2 linked regions of the Homo sapiens genome follow. The protein of the gene in region 1 purifies or fractionates together with the protein of each later gene. This does not show direct contact. Each region holds a gene or a part of one and is shown on either strand. Other genes may lie near its edges. The genes, in order: ESYT2 and SLC25A17.

Evidence for each region.
Region 2: the proteins of ESYT2 (region 1) and SLC25A17 fractionate together in Homo sapiens (co-fractionation; one large-scale study listed by BioGRID). This does not show direct contact.

What each region holds. Positions count from the first base shown.
Region 1 is NC_000007.14:158,822,919-158,826,741, forward strand, and holds part of ESYT2 (extended synaptotagmin-2), read right to left. Parts: intron 1-3,823. UniProt on the Homo sapiens protein: Tethers the endoplasmic reticulum to the cell membrane and promotes the formation of appositions between the endoplasmic reticulum and the cell membrane. Binds glycerophospholipids in a barrel-like domain and may play a role in cellular lipid transport.
Region 2 is NC_000022.11:40,788,303-40,792,125, forward strand, and holds part of SLC25A17 (peroxisomal membrane protein PMP34), read right to left. Parts: intron 1-3,823.

The sequences.
Region 1 (3,823 bases):
TTTACAGTTTTAGCTAGAATTCCGTAAGCAAAGGTGTACCTCACTTTGCACTATAACTGACCACCTTTTCATCCATTATTAAAAGAAATTCAGGCCAGGCATGGTGGCTCACGCCTGTAATCCTAGCACTTTGGGAGGCTGAGGCAGGCGGATTGCCTGAGCTTAGGAGTTCAAGACCAGCCTGGGCAACATGGTGAAACCCTGTCTGCACTATAATACAAAAGAAATTAGCTGGATGTGGCGGTGTGCGCCTGTAGTCCCAGATACTTGGGAGGCTGAGGCAGGAGAATTGCTTGAACCAGCGAGGCGGAGGTTGCAGTGACCCGAGATGGTGCCACTGTGCCCCAGCCTGGGCGACAGAGTGAGACTCTGTCTCAAAAAAAAAAAAAAAAAAAAAAAAAAAGACATTGGATTTTTTTTTTTTTAGAGACGGACTGTGGCTCTGTCGCCCAGGCTGGAGTGCAGTGGTGCGATCTCGGCTCACTGCAAGCTCCGCCTCCCAGTTTCATGCCATTCTCCTGCCTCAGCCTCCCGAGTAGCTGGGACTACAGGCGCACACCGCCACGCCCGGCTAATTTTTTGTATTTTTAGTAGAGACGGGGTCTCACCGTGTTAGCCAGGATGGTCTCAATCTCCTGACCTCGTGATCCACCTGCCTTGGCCTCCCAAAGAGCAGAGATTACAGGTGTGAGCCACCGCACCCAGCCCTGATGTCTATATTTTTTAACAGTGCTATTGAGACATAATTCACATACTCGTCAATGCACTCATTTAAAGTAAACAGTTTGATGGTTTTTAGTATATTCAGAATGTCTACTTCAAGGTTAAAGGCTGTGACCAATGTGGAAATCATGAAAGCCTACAGAAACGATCATAGGTTCATTAGGTCTAACAATAACACTATTCCATAACTGATCTTCACAGGATGGAAGTTTACATTTATGAATACGTACTTATAAAATATATTATGTTTTAAGTGTATATATCCATATAAACTATTTATATTTCAGTCCTAGCTCTATACCCTCCCATCCTTAAATGTAGAATGATAATAATATTAATCTTAAGTAGAAATTTTACTAAATCCACAACATACAGGCTGATGGATTGCATATATCCTAAATTTAAATCTATTTTTTAGCTTAAACTAAAAACCTGATATTTACTGCTTTATTTTTAGCCATCTTGGGGCATTAATGTTCTAACTGAAGGAGGTTCTCAGACCACAGAACTGAAGCAACAACGGTCACATCCTTTCCCTTCTGTGTCTCAGCCGCAGTGTGGGTGTGAACAAGAAACCCAAGCAGCATCCTCATCCTATCTGCAGCTACGATGAGGACTCCAACACTTCCTCAACCACATGACCACTCGGATTCAGGTGCTGAAGAAGCACTTGTTTAAAATAGCTAAATTGTGGCTCCTGAATTAGCTATGCCAACTATTTTCAGTTACAAGTCTTCACAATATTTTATTAAAGTATTAAGTCAATGATTAACACTGAGAATAAAAAAATATTTGCCCTTTCTTTACATGAGATCACAGTGCATTATTTTCTTCTGTTCATTTAGTTCTTAGACTATACATACCATATTTTTGCTAGAGTTAAATTTTCCTGAACTTCCCAGAAGGGCAATGGGAAGAAAGCTCTCCCCAGAGAAAGTTTGTATACAAAAGTACAGAACAACATAACCAAGGAAGCTAATATGCTTTAATTCTCAATAATCCAAGTATGAGGGTAATAAAAGACCAACTGTCAGAACAGTTAAGTAGTATTATCCGTGACAGTATTATCCATAGCAGCCATACAATCAGCATTTATTGGCAATAGTAAAAGCAGGATAGAGTCAGACTTTATCCTATGAAGAGATAATATTTTCAAATAAATAAAAATAGTAATGAAAAATTGCCCTTATTAATCTCTATAAAAACTCTTCAAGAATCTTCCTCACAGCCCTGAGCATGGTGGCATGCAACTGTAATCCCAGCTACTTGGGAGACTCACGTAGGTGGTTCGCTTGAGCCCAAGAGTTGAGCCCAAGAGTTCAAGCCTGGGGAACACAGCGAGAACCGCCTCTCTTTAAAAAACAAAAAAGGCTGGGCGCGGTGGTTCATGCCTGTAATCCCAGCACTTTGGGAGGCCAAGGCTGGTGGATCACCTGAGGTCAGGAGTTTGAGACCAGCCTGGCCAACATGGTGAAACCCTGTCTCTACTAAAAACACAAAAATTAGCCAGACGTGGTGACGGGCGCCTGTACTCCCAGCTACTTGGGAGGCTGAGGCAGGAGAGTCGCTTAAACCCGGGAGGCAGAGGTTGCGGTGAGCCGAGACCATGCCACTGCCCTTCATCCTGGGCAACAGAGTGAGACTCCGTCTCAAAAATAAATAAATAAATGAAATAATAAATAAATAAATCTTCTCTTCTTCACCCAGGGTAGTCTAATGGTCCAGGGCCCATTACCACAGGGTAGACACTTAAACAACAAAAAGCCCTGTCCTCAATTCATCCAGCCTGCCAGGCCTTTCCCCTAAGCAGTTGGAACATAACTGTTCATGGGAAAAGAAGTGAAGAATAACAACACTGTTTATATTAAAGCTGTAGGACCAAACTTACAGAATTATCACAGTTAAGTGAGAGCCATCTGTCACATCCTAATAGCCTCAATCAGGAACAGTACATATAGTTTCTCAAAGTATTAATACTCTTATCTCATTTCCATATCCAGCTTCAGTTTTTACTCAGTAAGAAGAAAAGCTGTCAGTGAATATATACAAAGGTGAGGTGAGGAAATTAGTATCTCCTTAATTCATGTTTTCCTATGTTTCCACTCTGCCATGAATTCACGGTTGTCAACGACACACTATGAAAACAAGTACAGCCTTTGGGATGTACAGATACATCTTGTTCAAGGCAAAATACCAGTCCAAAGTTCAGAAACCCCAAGCACCAATGTATGTATGGTAAAAATCAAGGTACTAGTAATATTGGCCAGGCATGGTGGCTCACACCTGTAATCCCCACACTTTAGGAAGTCTAAGTGGGAGGATGCCTCGAGGCCAAAAGTTTGAGACCAGCCTGGACAACGCGGTAAGAACTCATCTCTAGAAAAAAAAAAAAACAAAAACAAACCCAAAGTGCAAGTAATACTGAAATCTTAACTTTTCTTATTCATAGTTTCTTCTATTATTGATGTGCTTTGACCACCCCCACCACCCCTGCCGCGCAGCAGAATTTCAGGCACACTTCGAGACCATGCAACCTGCTGGTTTTATTATGAAAATAAAGTATATTACACTTTTAATAAATATCACAAAATAGATACATAAGTATAATTTAAAAGATATTTTTAAAATCTCTCTAAAACTGTCAACATAATCACTGTCAAGTTTCATGTGAATCCTTCAAGAAGCGTCTTAAGCATCCTAGGCACACTGAAGTTTACACATGTGGGATTATGAGCTCAAGTACAAATTTGGAATAAACAAGTAAAACATTCTGGAGAAAATATAAATTCTTCATGAGGTGAACACCACAGTTCATCAGTTTAAGTCACACAGATTAAAAACTTGAAAAGAATCTTTGGCTAAATTACTTTTGTATTTTTTTTTTTTTTAAAGAATTTCAGGCTGGGCGCAGTGGCTCACACCTGTAATCCCAGCACTTTAGGAGGCTGAGGCGGGTGGATCACGAGGTCAAGAGATCGAGACCATCCTGGCCAACATGGTGAAACCCAGTCTCTACTAAAAATACAAAAATTAACTGGGTGTGGTGGTGTGCGCCTGTAGTCCCAGCTATTCGGGAGGCTGAGGCAGGAGAATGGCTTGA
Region 2 (3,823 bases), on another chromosome or scaffold:
AGCATGATATGGTAACTACATTGTACTGTTTAAACTAATTCACAGCTGTAGGAAAATGTTTGATTTTTGAAATATAACCAAGATGAGGCTGGACAATAATAAACACTGGGCCGGGCGTTGCGGCTCATGCCTATAATCCCAGCACTTTGGGAGGCCAACGCAGACAGATCACGAGGTCAGGAGTTCGAGACCAGCCTGACCAACATGGTGAAACTCCATATCTACTAAAAATACAAAAATTAGCCAGGCGTGGTGGTGTGCGCCTGTAATTCCAGCTACTCAGGAGGCTGAGGCAGCAGAATCACTTGAACCTGGGAGGCAGAGGTCACAGTGAGCCAAGATCACGCCACTGCACTCCAGCCTGGGAGAGAGAGCGAGACTCCATCTCAAAAACTTAAAATAAAATAAAATAAAAACAAAACAAAACACTGAAATACTGGAAGACAGTGAATGAATAAATAATATGATTTTTCATCAGTGGCCATTCATTATTTTGCTTTTAGAAACCTGGAAGAAATTATCTTCTTTGAGTTTCAAATGTTCTGGTAAATCTAGTCATTTCTTAGCTTCCTCAAAAATCACCTTGAATTGCTGAAATAAGTGACTCTCATGAATCAAAGTTCTTTTCTGGTCTGAGGTAGCCAACAACGGCCACACTCAGGATTTCCCCATAGAAGTGCTCTTTGAAGGTATGCATGGTATGTGTTTCCATGGACTTCTTCGTATTCTCATAGTATGGGTTCCATCCTATGCTCACCACCATCTTCTGACCATCTCTACTTCCAGCACTGGCCCAACCATAATAAATGCCACTGGATATATCGGCTGGCAGATTATCTACCACTTGCTCAGGAAAATTAGCTGTGGGGGATGCCCAGCTGCTTGTAGCCACGGCCGAAGCCCCATACCACTTGGTCCCGGCAGGAGTATGACAGATGCTTCGTAATGCAGTCTGCTCGAGGCATGGGCTGCAGCCCGGTCCCTGCGTCCTACAGAGACACCGTCCACGCGGTGCCCGGACCCCGGACCAGCCACGGGGTGGGAAGGGGCGTGAGCTCTGTCTGCCGCGGGGGTGCACCAGGGGCCCGACGATGCCGATGACACGCCACGGAGGATCCCTGATGCCAGCGACTCAGGAGCTGGGTCTCCCAACCATTTTCATTTTCTTTCTTTCCTTCTTTCCCTACCTTTTAAAATATTTTATGTTTGTTTGTTTATTTAGAGGTAGAGTTTCCCTCTTGTTGCCCAGGCTGGAGTGCAGTGGCATGATCTTGGCTCACTGCAACCTCTGCCTGCCAGGTTCAAACAATTCTCCTGCCTCAGTCTCCCAAGTAGGTGGAATTACAGGCACCTGCTACCACACCTGGCTAATTTTTTGTATTTTCAGTAAAGGTGGGGTTTCACCATGTAGGCTAGGCTGTTCTCGAACTCCTGACCTCAGGTGATACACCCGCCTCAGCCTCTCAAAGTGCTGGGATTACAGGCGTGAGCCACCGCGCCTGGTCTAAAATTTATTTTTTATAGAGATGGGGTCTTGCTATGTTGCCCAGGCTGGTCTCAAACTGCGGGCTCAAGTGATCCTCCTGCCTTGACCTCCCAAACTGCTGGGATTACAGGGGTGAGCCACCACACCTGGCCTTGGACCATTTTCTGACAAGACAACAGATGATGCTCACAGTCAACACAGACCCGTAGACTCTCCTATGTGTCAACTGTAATCCTACCCCCTTCTCACACACTCAAGAAAACACTTTAGGCTGGGCGCGGTGGCTCACGCCTGTAATCCCAGCACTTTGGGAGGCCGAGGCAGGCAGATCACCTGAGGTCAGGAGTTTGAGACCAGCCTGGCCAACATGGTGAAACCCTATCTTTACTAAAAATATAAAAAATTAGCTGGGCATGGTGGTGGGTGCCTGTAATCCCAGCTACTCAGGTGGCTGAGGTAGGAAAATTGCTTGAACCCAGGAGGTGGAGGTTGCAGCAATCCAAGATTATGCCACTGCACTCCAGCCTGGGCAACAGAGTGAGACACAATCTCAAAAAAAAAAAAAAAAAAAAAAGTGGAAGAGTGAACTTTAAAGTTAAAATACAACAATTAAGGTTAGTAGGCTATTTATTATATGTGTTACTTTAACTGACTTTTTAAAATTGAGCCCTGAAAAAAAAAAGAAAAAAATTGTTCATGAGCCCTGAAAAAAAAATTTTAGACAAGTGGAAAAAAGTAAAAAATGAAAGCTAACTGCCCTACTATACCAGTCCAGCTGTGTTAGGTATGGGGGAGTCTGCTGTAATCCTAAATTGCACTAAGAGTTAGAAAGATGAACAGGACAGAGAGAGTAACACAGGGGTGGTATATATCTGGTGGGTAATGGGATGGCAGACACAGCAAATAAACCGCTTTGGACAATTTAAAAAGCAAAAGATTTCAACATATAGTCCATGAATTAGAAGTTTCATGGAAAGTTATATGAGTTAGTCCCTGTAAGTTATAATCTTTCAAATGCAAATACATATAAACTAATCTAAAATGATTAAAATCAAAGTATTACAAATAACTGGTCTCAAGTATAGAAGATCCCACTAGATTGCCATTTGTTGTAATTTATGTAAAAAACAAGTCTTTTTCTGTACAGGAACTATTCTAATTTTTTTCCCCAAGTGAACAAATCTCAAACTTGAGTTCTTTGAGTCGTGATACTCTTTGAAAACTACTCTCCTAGAAAGGCTGCAAAACTGTGCAAAGTGGGTTCATGAGGAAGACCTCAAAGGGAAGATCAGACTATAGTGCAATAGTCCAGGTGAGCAATGATAAGGTTTGATTTGGGGAAATGGCTATGGATATGGAGAAGAGGAAATGGATCCAAGAGACAGTGAGGAGACAGACCAGTGGTTCTTGATGGCCAAGCAGATGTGGAGGGTGGGAAGGCACGAAGAGCCTGTGATGACTCCTAGACTTCTATCCTGAGTTATTTATCCAAAATTCAACTTCTCTCCCCTTCTCTCTAAGCACATGGCTGGTTCCTCTGGCCACCAGCCTCCATCCTGAAGCTATCTAGGAGCCCACCAATAGTAACTTTATTAGCCTAAACTCAGAGATAGTTCAAAGGGGCTCATTAGGAATAACAAAAGATACTACTACTCAGGAAATTCCAATGGTTTTAGGAACTGTGCCAGGAACCAGGGACAAAGGCCACATACATTTTTTATTATACCACATACAGACATCCTACAACTTCAGAGCAAAAAAATGTAATAACCTGATTAAAAAATAGACAAAGAACCAGAACAGACATTTCTGCAAAGATAATATACAAATGGCCAACAAACATATGAAAAGTGATGTTCAGCATCACTAATCATCAGAGAAATGCAAATCAAAGCCACAGTGAGATATCACCTCATACCCATTAGGATGGCTACTATCATAAAACAGAAAGTAAGTGTTAGTGAGGATGTGGAAATATGGGAACTTCTGTGTACTGTTGGTGGGATTATAAATGTTACAGTGTTATGGAAAACAGTATGGAGGTTCCCGAGAAAACTGAACAGAATTCCAAATGATCCAGCAATCCCACTTCTGGGTATATATCCAGAAGAATGGAAAGCAGGCTCTCAAAGAGAGAGCTACACATCCATTTTCATAGCACTATTCACAACAGCCAAAAGATGGAAGCAACTTAAGTGCCTATTAACAGATGAATGGATAAACAGAATGTGATATATACATATAATGGAATATTATTCAGTCATAAAAAAGTAAGGAAGTCATGTCACATGCTGTATGGCATGGATGAAAGTAGAAGACATTATACTAAGTGAAGTA